3 linked regions of the Homo sapiens genome follow. The protein of the gene in region 3 purifies or fractionates together with the protein of the main gene of each other region. This does not show direct contact. Each region holds a gene or a part of one and is shown on either strand. Other genes may lie near its edges. The genes, in order: EDEM1, EHD4 and CDCP2.

Evidence for each region.
Region 1: the proteins of CDCP2 (region 3) and EDEM1 purify together in Homo sapiens (affinity purification with mass spectrometry; one large-scale study listed by BioGRID and IntAct). This does not show direct contact.
Region 2: the proteins of CDCP2 (region 3) and EHD4 purify together in Homo sapiens (affinity purification with mass spectrometry; one large-scale study listed by BioGRID and IntAct). This does not show direct contact.

Annotation. Positions count from the first base shown.
Region 1 is NC_000003.12:5,208,164-5,211,890, reverse strand, and holds part of EDEM1 (ER degradation-enhancing alpha-mannosidase-like protein 1), read right to left. Parts: coding exon 3,628-3,727; intron 1,717-3,627; coding exon 1,643-1,716; intron 772-1,642; coding exon 675-771; intron 1-674. UniProt on the Homo sapiens protein: Extracts misfolded glycoproteins, but not glycoproteins undergoing productive folding, from the calnexin cycle.
Region 2 is NC_000015.10:41,899,344-41,903,070, forward strand, and holds part of EHD4 (EH domain-containing protein 4), read right to left. Parts: intron 1,839-3,727; coding exon 1,302-1,838; 3' UTR 1-1,301. UniProt on the Homo sapiens protein: ATP- and membrane-binding protein that probably controls membrane reorganization/tubulation upon ATP hydrolysis. Plays a role in early endosomal transport.
Region 3 is NC_000001.11:54,139,501-54,143,000, forward strand, and holds part of CDCP2 (CUB domain-containing protein 2 isoform 1 precursor), read right to left. Parts: intron 1,934-3,500; coding exon 1,598-1,933; intron 607-1,597; coding exon 253-606; coding exon of another isoform or gene 20-252; exon of another isoform or gene 1-19.

The sequences.
Region 1 (3,727 bases), on a different chromosome or scaffold from region 3:
GGCAGAGCGGTGAGATGGAAAGAGCACCAGACAGGGAGTCAGGACCACAGTTCACACCTCAGCTCTGCCACAGCCATCGCCATACTTTGAGCAAGTCGCCTGACCTCTGTGTAGGCTGTAGTTCTTGTGAGGGAAATGATGAACATATGAACATTAGGTAATACCAAAGGGTTCGTCCAGGTCCAGAAATTCTCTCTCTCTACACACACACACACACACACACACACACACACACACTCACTCACTCATGTGCCTGAGGATGTGTGTATGGACAGAGACAAGGCTGAGCTGCAGGTCTTGGCTAAGATCACATACATCAAGAGAAGTGAGAAGCCATTATGAACACAGCTCTCTTCCTCAGAGGCGTCTTCCCCGACCACCTGTAGTTAGATACAGAACTAACACTGGTTCTGTATCAATCGTTACCAGGATTTCCCACAGTTTGTAATCATAAGTTCAGTTCTTGGTTTACTTGACAAATGACTTTTCAACAAGGTTGGAAACCATGAAAGAAGATAGTAATATCCTTTGGTTCTGACAGCGTTTGCATCCTGGGAATGCACAATGTCCAGCACATAGCTTTAGCCAGTAAGTACCTGTCAGATGGAAGACTATGCGAATGCTTGCTCTAAGCAATACTAAATATTCCTGGGTTCATCTTGCAACACACATACCAGATACAAATATTTACAGGTCTCACTGAGAAAGAAGCTCTCCATCCGGTCTTCTGTGGACTTGTCAATGACGTGATGCAGCGTGGCGTACCCACACCTACAAAACAATCATCTGGTCAGTCCTGCCTCTCTTCCTTCCCACCTGCTGATTCACTTAAGAAGCAGAAACATTCTCTTATCAGAATAATCAACCAGTCATCCAACACCATATGAAACTATGTTTACATTGAGGGGCTCTCCTTTTTTATAGCCTGGGTTGTTTGCAAATTTACTTAGCAAGTGCTTTTGGCTGCTAAATTATCAGGTGAGTTAGAGGGTGTGGGCGTGGTGGCGGGGTGCTGGCCAGAAGCATAACGTGGCACCAGGAAAATGACCGGCAACAAATGTAAAAGGACTAATTTAAATTTCTAGTCCTAATACTTGTAGAATTGACTTATTATTGAGAATTGACTTATTATTTGAGTATTGACTTATTATTTAAGATAGTACTTAAAAAAAAAAACTTACAGCAGGTAAAAAAAAGCATGTCACAAAATTGAAATATAGAGTATGTTTCTTATATATACATATATACACACATCATATATAAAAATATTTAAAAGATTATAAGTACATACATTTCAATACTGACTACAGTTTTCTCTGTATGTGGAGATTACAGTGATAATATTCTACTGCTTTATATTTTCTGTACTCCCTAAACATTTTAGCGTATATGTTATTATATAACTAGGGGAAAGAAGTTAGAATGAACACCCATAATCTGCTAGAACCTCACGGAAAAGAAAGGGCAGTTCTCAGTACAATGGAAAGGTTCTACTACACCAAAAGGTAAGCAATTTCCCTGTAAATGTAACATTAATGACCTGGTTCTATAAATTAAAATGCAAACTAGGATATTTCCCCAAAACAATTTGAAATAAATTAAAAGTGGCTGACAGAAAAAGGTAGGAACTTAGAAAACTGACTTGACTTTTGTGTACTTTTCCAGACTCTGCAGAATATCCATTCCTACATGGAGGTAGAAGGGATTCTTGGTTGCCTAGAGAGAACACGAGAGAATGTGATCCAGCATGGGCTTGGAAGACATGCCATCGACAAACATCATGGTGACTGCGGGGCTTCCCCATGGAGACGAGTCGCCAGCCAAAGGAAGAAACAGGGCCCAGGTCATTTATCTTGCAGGGTCACAATGGTTAGAGGACTAAGGTACTCCGTCAGTTCACATCAAAGAGTACCTGTGATTTGGTTAACTTTAGCCAGGGGTAAGACCATCTGTTCCAGGGTAGAACAATAGTCTACTTTGGTTGCCATCATGATTAGAAACAAAACAATGCCCACGCTGACAGCACCATATCTGAGAACAAATCCAATTTCTATCTTGCCTCAGAACTCTCCAGAAACTTAAGACACAGGCACAGGAAAGAGGACCTTGCCGCCATTCCAGTTATGGCACCATGAGGAAAGGCTGATGGGAACAAGACTTTCCGAAGTATGAAAGGAGGCCGCCACCCTTTCCTTTCTAATCACCCTGAGAAATCAGTCCTCAGTTGCCTACTCTTCTCACACATACTCTTAGATGGTTTTACTAGAGAAAAACTTCTCTGGGAAGATAAGCCTTTATCCAACAAACAGTTTAAAAGTTGGGGATCTTTAATTCATGCCTAGTGCCAGATTGCAGCAACAAACAACAAGGTTAGCAGTCTCCAGATTAAAAGTGCACAGGGTGTGGCTTCGGAGGGTAAAGCTGAAGAGTGCAAGACATCTCTGTCAACGTGAAGGAGAAACGGAAAACATGAAAGAAGCAGTGACAGAAACAAAGAGGAGTAAGCTCACAGGCCACAGGACTAAGCTTAAGAGAAGAAATCAGCCAGTAACCGGCACGCCATCCTCCGTGTACAGTCTTTCTACTGGGCTCAGAAAGGCCAAACAGGTGGCTATTATCTTTTCCCTTTTTTGAGAGGTTACCTAAAACTCATGAAGTCCCTTTTTAGGCATGAGGACTACTACCAGTTTCACAGGATTTCTTTCCCCTTTTTTCATCTGAAGCAAACGGCAAGGATTTGGTATAAAAAAATTGTTGAATAAATAAATTCAAATCTTAGTGTTAGCTCCACTACCAGAGTTTCTAAAACTCCCCACTACCAGAGTTTCTAAAACTCAGGCCCTGCTTGCTAGGGCTGGCCCACGGTGGGCATCTGTTACCGGCCTACTGAATTTCACCAAGGCCAGTTTCTTGGTGAGTTAACCACTCGTGCTGCTGTGCATGTGGATGGAGGAGGACTCTCAGTGTGTATATATGTATGGCATACACAGAAGTATAAATACCTGGCTTCAACCGTCAGGAAGAAGACATTTCACAGTTAAAGTCACATTCCCTCTACCACTGAAGTAATTTCACAAAGGATGAACACTATTACATATATATGTGTGTGTGTGTGTGTGTATATATATATACACACACACACACACAAACACAAACATTAAACAAAAACAGGCATCCAGATGAATCCAAGATGATTTCCTTTACAACCAAGAAAATGAATTTTCTTTTTGTCTGAATAGTTGTTACACAGACCGGGGCTCCACAGTACACTGATGCAGAATTGCATCCTAAAAACGGGTCTTCTGGTCACATACATTTGGAAAACACCTTAGTACCAAATCTTCCTCATGAATACTTAAAGATGTGAGTTATAAGTCCTACGGTAAAAACATGATTCAGCTTTGTAGAATATTAGGTTAAAAACATATTTGACTGCAGATGCCTTCTCTGTCCTGTGAAGTTACGAATGACACTGAACACTAACAAGACTACGGATAGGGGGTAACTCAATCAGAGTCACTATGAAACAACATAACCCTAAATCACTCAGCAAATGTTCATTAAGAATGAACTGCTGGGGTCAGGGGAGGCAGTGAAAGGAAAAAAAAAAAAACACAACTCTAGTACCTGGTAGAGGAGATATGTGGATTCCACTAACTCTGGTCTCAGTGGGTAGAAGAGAACGTCAGGGGCCTGCAGCTGCCAGTTATATCTCTCAGGGAGGGCA
Region 2 (3,727 bases), on a different chromosome or scaffold from region 3:
CAGGGGATTTGGGGAGCGCACACTCTGGAGCAGAAGTACAGGTATGTGCCCGAATCCTGCCTCGTGATGGGCATTCATGATACGAACCACACAGCCTTTAAAGAAAAGGTTTTATATGAAAGGTTCCATTTTGTTTCTGTATAAAGGCTTTTATCCTGTAAGGAAAAAAAAAAAACACAAAACCCTAGACATAATAAATGCCTGTTTTCTACAAAAACAATGTCTAACTCTGGGTGGACTGATCTCTTCTCAACAGCCCAGGGCAGGGCTGGTCCCTCATTCACCTGTGTCCACAGGGCCGAAGACACTGCACACACTAGGACAGGATTTGATTGAATTTAAATCCTGCCACCCACCAAGGAGACCTCGGGATATTTAATGTTTGAGGGCCACACTAAACGATCACTGCAGAGAACCACCTCTTTTCTTTACTGTAGTTTAAGTATGATAAGTGGGCTTTGCTATTACTTATTGGAAAAACCAGTAAGAAAAGCTAATTTTCAGGCTTCAATGTGATTTGACATGCAAACGGGAAGTTTTGCCAGGGGTTAATAAAGGTTGTGAATTCCAAATTCCTAGCCGAATATGGCTTTGCTGGTAAGCCCCCTGGAAGGGAGGTTGGGAGGGCTGACCAGATGGTCATCGGGGCACTGGGATGGAGGCACGCTGGGGCCTGACTGCCTGCTCTGCTGGAGACTGCAGAATGGATGGCAGATCCACAGTGCATCCCCCTTCCAAACCCAGGAGGCATCTGTCGCCTTCTCTTTGGTAGACAGTCTGGAGACAGCAGAAACCCTCTGCTCTATTTTTTTGCCACTCTAAATATAGCAGAAAACAAAATAAAATAAATAAGATAATCTTTGCTGCCTCCAGGTGCCCTCTGAGGGACAGACAGCTGCTCCAGAGTTGTTCATGAGGACAAAAAGCCCAGGCAGCCTGGAGACCCAGCTGCTCTGGGTGAGCCTTAGCTCACTTCCTGTGGTTCCTGGGACTTACCAGGCCCACCCCCATGCGCATTTCTCCAGGCAGGTTCTGAGGACTCTTTGGACAATTTCTCTTTCTTCTCAACCCTTCAATCTCCTAATCCACCCCCCTACCCCCAATATTTTCATAGAAACTAAGGGAATTTTGGAGGTGAAAGAAGTCATCTAGTTTCCAGTGTCCACCCTCCCCATTCTACAGATGGGGAAACCAAGGCACAGAGAGGGCAGTGCCTTGCCCAAGGTCATTCGGTGAGTCAGTGGTGGAGCAGGCCTGAGGCCCAGGTCCCCCAGTTCCCACCCCGTTCTGCAGCCCACCCCTCAGTCGGCCTTGGGCAGGGACTTCCTGTGCGAGGGGGGCACGAGGTGGGGGGGCAGGCTGCTGGGCAGCTCGTAGCCGTCGAGCTTGATCTTGATGAGGTGCTTGGCCAGCGCGAACTCCTCCTCATCAAGCATGCCGTCGCAGTCGCAGTCGGCCAGCTTCCAGATCTTGCCCAGGACGCTGTTGGGCAGCTTGGAGGTCACCATCTCCTTCTTGGCGTTGACACCTGATATCTTGCCATTGATGGGCGACAGAGTGTAGAAGAGCTCGTCGTAGACGGGCTTGTCTTTGGCCACGACCCACTCCTCCTCGTCGGCGCCCTCCTTGGCACCCTCCCCGTAGCCCTGGTTGAAGGGGCCCTCGGTGGTGCCATCGAAGGCGCCGCCCTGCACCAGCTGCGTGGGCGTGCTCGTCTCCTCCTGGCTGATGAGGTTCATGAGGGGCGAGATCTTGTTGCTCAGCATGTTGTCCACTGCCTCGATCAGCTTGGGCTTCAGCGAGTGGAATTTGGTGAAGTCATAGTTCTCAAGCTGTTCCTGCAGAAGGACAAACCACAGGATGGGTTACATGTGGTCTCTTCAGGGGGAAACAGTTGGGGGCCACTGGAGGGAGACTAATTCTGCCCCAGGCAGACGTCCCACCCACTACTCAGGAGTGCACTCTTTGGGAGCTTCCCACATCCAGATGTACCACATATAGGAGTGGTTGTTTTGGAACAAGAAACAAGTGTTTTTCCTATGGCAGCCAATCTCTGCTGGTGGCCGCATGAGCGACAGCAACCTCCGAGGACTCTGAGAAACCTTCTTTCACCTGCCTTTTTAAAAATGCTCTAGAGTTAGTATTCTATTTCTCAAGGGATTTCACTACACACTTCAGCCGATCTTCATAGCAATCCTGGGAGGAAGGAGGGGCAGGCATTTAGAACCACATTTTACAGAGAGCTGTGAGGGGCTGTCTGGCAGAGTCAAAGCAGAGCCCCTGTCTCCTGGCTCTTGACTAATGCTCTCTGTGCTGGAACACAGAGCTGTGACAGAAGGACTATGTTTACATAAAACAACTAATTAAATACCTTGTTTTCGGAACACGTAAAAAAATGTAGTGTAGGACAGCTTCTTAGTGGCTCTAACCTCTTATGAATGAGCTGAGGGCGCTACTCAACAGGAACCCCGTAGGACCAGCCCCACCAAGTACGGCCTGACCAGGGGCACCTGTGCTACCCCAGGAAGGTATCGAGGCAGGGCCACGGAGACCTTGCATATACAACATAATCATCATGAATCCACTGTCATTTCTAAAATATGGACAAATAAGCAAAAGCTGGAACTTGTAAGAGCAGGGAGTAGGGCTGGGGAGCACGAGGGAATAAACGTAGCTGGTAAGCCTGAGTATCACTGGCCAGGTCAGGACATATCTTAGCTCTACCTGTTGAGTGAGGCAGCCTGTCAGCAGACAGAGCAGCAGAAGCACAGGCTCTAGAGGGGGCCTGGGAAACACTGTGACTGCCCAACCAGGCTGGGGCAGACTACAGGATGCCACAGAGGCTCTGTGGATGGCACCGTAGAAACTGACCTTCCTACCTTGGTTCTCCTTGGTTACTCCATCCATCCATCCATCCATCCATCCATCCATCCATCCATCCATCCATCCAACAACCCACCTGTCCAACTAATCCTCCAACTAACCATCCATCCATTCAACCAACCCTCCATCCATCCATTCAGCCAACAATTCATCCATCCATCCACCTACCCGACCAACTTTTATTTGTCATTTACTCTGCACCAGCCCCTGTTCTGGGGCTTGGGGATACAGAATAAATATGAAAAGCCATAATTCCTGCTTTAAATGAGCTTATGTTGTAATGGAGGAAGGATACTCCAATTGTTTAAAAAAGGACTTGACATAACACAGTGAAAAGGATAACATGAAATCTATAAAGTCATTAGAAAGAAAAAAGCCAAGTCATTAAAAGGGAGAGAGGGGCCAGGCTCAGTGGCTCACACCTGTAATCCCAGCACTTTGGGAGGTCAAGGTGGGAAGACTGCTTGAGCCCAGGAGTTCAAGACCAGCCTGGTCATTAGACCCATATATATATATATACATATGTATGTGTATACATATATGTATGTGTGTATATATATGTATGTGTATATATATGTATGTGTATATATATGTATGTATATATATACATATGTATATATATATGTTAGGGAGAGGAAGGGAATAATCACATCAGATGGCTAAGGTTAAGGAAAACTACCGCCTGTATAAGGAGAAGAGCTCAGTTGCCCAGGGGGACCCCTGGGGACCCTCACTGTCTAAGGAGAGAAAACACTTGTTTATTGCAAGAGACAAACTTTCTGTGGCTCTGAACTGCGAGAGTTACCTAGAGCTTTACATGACAGGCTTCAAAGATCTGATGAAA
Region 3 (3,500 bases):
GGGGTGAGGACTCACGAAGTTAGAAGCTGGGGAAGGAGGCTCTGCAATAGTGGAAACAAGCGGGAGCCGTACCGTCCAGTCTTAGGGGTCCCGAGAGTGGGCAAGGGTGTAGCCAATGGAGAAGGAGCTGGAGAAGACCATTCATGGGGGGGGCAGGACAAACTGGTGGGATGGAGGAAGGAGACTGCAAAGACTGAGGCTGCAAAGCCTCCCCTTCGCCCTCAGTGGACCCACTCCCACAGCCCAGCTGACCTCCGATGTAGGCCACAGAGAAGCCCCTGCGGGTGGTGCTGCGGTCTGTGTGCAGCAGAAGCAGAAGCTGGTTGTGGCTTGAGGTCACGGGTGGTGGCAGGTGGTGTCCACACCAATTCCCCAGCAGGGGTGCCTCCTCGCTGGCCCCATCGAAGGCCGCCAGATGGTCAAAGTCACAGGTCTTGGTCAGGCTGTTGGGCTCCTCCAGGTCCAGGTCCAGGAAGAACACCTTGACCTGGTAGCCCGGGGGCAGGCGGATGGTCCAGTGGCAGCGGATGTTGTTGGGGTAGGAGCTGGGGTACTGTGGGCTGGAGAAGTTGCCCCGCATGGCCATGTATACCTCCTGGCATTCTCCTGGATGGGGGATGGGGAGGTGGAAGGAGCAACAGTGAGGGGAGAGGAGAAGTCACTCTCTGCAGTTACAGCTTAGGCAGCAGGTGCCACAGTGGTCCAAAAACCACCAGCAGGTTGTGGGCACCATGGCTAGCACACCAGACAATTGATCCCAACTATCTGAAAGTTGGGATGCTTGATCCCAAAGCTTGTTTTAAACTGCAACTAGCTGAAAGCTGGGACTTGCATTCCAGTTGACAGTCCCCTTCACAGGTGTAGGCCCTGTTAGGAATTCAATAATAATACACAATACCTGTCCTCAGAGTTACCTCTGAACTCCCTGGCTTGACAGATGATGTGGTTCATGCCTGGCCTTTCCCCTTTTCTCACTGCCCCATTTGGTATGTACTATGAGCATACCAAACACTCTCTGCCCTCCAGGCCTTTGCACATGCTGTTCCTCCTGCTTGGAATGCCCTTCCCTTCTGCTTCCGTCTAACTCCTTCAGGGTACTGCTCAATTCTCTTCTCCACGAAGTCATCCATGATTCTTACTGATGGATAGCACAGATCATAATGGCTTGCGCTGTCTGTTTCCTTATAATCTCTCTAACTAGACTGTAAAGTTCCCACGACTTCATCCATTCATTTGTACGAAAATTGAGTACCTACTATGTGCCAGGTACAAAGATAAGCCCATAAGGGACTCAGTCAGACAGGGGAGATTGACATGCAAACCACACACAGAAGTGACAAATGTTAGATCATAGTGTAAAAAACTTATATAAGGAGTTGAAAAAAGGATTAATTCTGGTAAAACAGTAAGTCTTCGCAGAGGTGACATGCTTATGTCTTGGCATAGGCCAAGGGTATGCTAGAGCATTCCAGGCAGAGAGAGTGCAGAAAGCTCAAGGCTGCGGGGGGCAGAAAGGTGTGACCCCTGCAAGTGTAATGGGGAGACAGGAGCCCAGTAGGCACAGGAGGATTCAGGGTGGAGCGCCAGCCCCTCCTACCTGAGAAGTAGTAGGCCTTGAAGCCACGGCCTCCGATGTTGAAGTCGGACTTGAAGACCACCTGCAGTTCGTGGCCCAGAGACACGAGGGTGGGGGGCCTGGTGCTGCCACAGTAGTGGTGCCCACGGGTGGGGCCAGGCCCCCCAAGCACAGCCACGTAGTCATAGGTGCACTCTTCATTGCCCTCCACCTGGAAGTCCACGAACACCAGCTTGACGTGGGCAGGGCCAGCGGCCCGGATCACCCAGTGGCACTCCATGCTGTTCGGGTAGTTGTTGGGATACTCAGGACTGGTGAGGACCCCTGACAGGCCAGTCAGGACGCCGCCACACACATCTGCAAGGGAGCCCACTTGAGCTGACCTTTCTTTCTCCTTGTGGCTCCCAGTTTCCTCCCTTGGGAACAAGACACTCCAACATGCTGCCCCCACAGGTATCTCATTAGGGCCTCATTACCATCCAGCAAGCACCTGCTACCCAAGTAGCAAGTGTAGCACGTGCTCAGGCCCAGCATTTGGCACCTATGCTGCCTGTTCAAATCCTCAGAGTAGCCGCACAAGGACTGTGCTGCAGTTTCTCTGATTTTATAATTAAGAAAAGGGAGGCAAAGACAAGTTCAGTAGCTTACTTGAGTTTGAGTTCACCCAGGCAGACCTTGAGATAAGGATTTGAGTGCAAGGAGTTTACTTGGGAGATCCAGGGGCCCCCAGGTGGGGAGGGAGGGAGAGGACAGAGAAGGGGAGGTGTGTTCAAGTCAGCTGCTGACCTTGGGGGGAACTCTGGGGACGGGGTAAAGCACATACTTCAGAGTTCTGTCAATCTAGGAGCAAGGGAGCTGCGGCATTTACATGCCAACTCCCCAGAGTGCAGGCAGAGGGCTGCTGTGGGCTGGGAGTGCCCTACTGAGACTTCAGAAAAAAGCCCTCCAGCATAGAACTGTGGAGGTTGGCAGAAGCACATCGACGTGGCAGGGCCCAGGGAATGTGGTCAGGGCCCTGAGAGCAGGTCACCCGACTGGTAACTGGGAAAGTGGGATTTGAACCCAGGAAGACTAACTATGGATCCTGTGCACTTGACCCTTGTGACCTTCACTGTCCACTCCTACGAGGCCAGTGGGGCACAGAGGCTGAGGTGCCTGAGCTCAGGAATGTGATCAAACCTCCCTAATGGATGAGGAAACCAAGACTTAGAGAGAGGACCTGATGAAGTAGAGCTTGGTTTGACATCTGAAGACAAGTAGTCTCCCATCTCTGCCTTTTATTAGCTGTGTGACTCTAGGGAAGTAACCCAGCCTCTCTGAGCCTCATTGGAACATTAGAAATCATAAGACTGAACCAGCTTGATCCACTGGGCTCAGACTTGAGCACAGTCTGAAAATATGCTGCTGGAAACTCTCAGGAAGCCAGCTTGGCCAGTACAACTACACGGCAAGTGTGGGTGAATGCTGCGACTTGCTGGAGGTCACCAGCAGGGAGGACATACGTGGGATGTGTTTCCTGAGACTCCAGCATCTCGCCCTATGGCACGGCTGTGTGACCAGGGCTCTGGATGGGGCATCTAAGGACTTGGCGTCTTTTCCCAGTGCTGGCCCAGCCATGTAACTTTAGGAAGGCCCTCTCAGGGACTCAGATTTTGTGAAATGAGAGGGCAGGTTTAGATAGCCTGTGAGATCCCTTCCAACACTAACAACCTTCGCGGAGACTTCCCAACTGTGCCCTGGGGCTCCCCAGCAGCCCCCTGGAGCACCTGCTGGCACCTGGTGCAAATTTCATTCTTATGCTGTATTTCAAGCTCTCTTTTAATGTAATGAAAAGATAGCACCCACAGACTTTAATATCTTTAACAAGATATTAAAATTTAAATATTCTACATTTAAAAATTTAACTCATTAGAGGCCATCAATA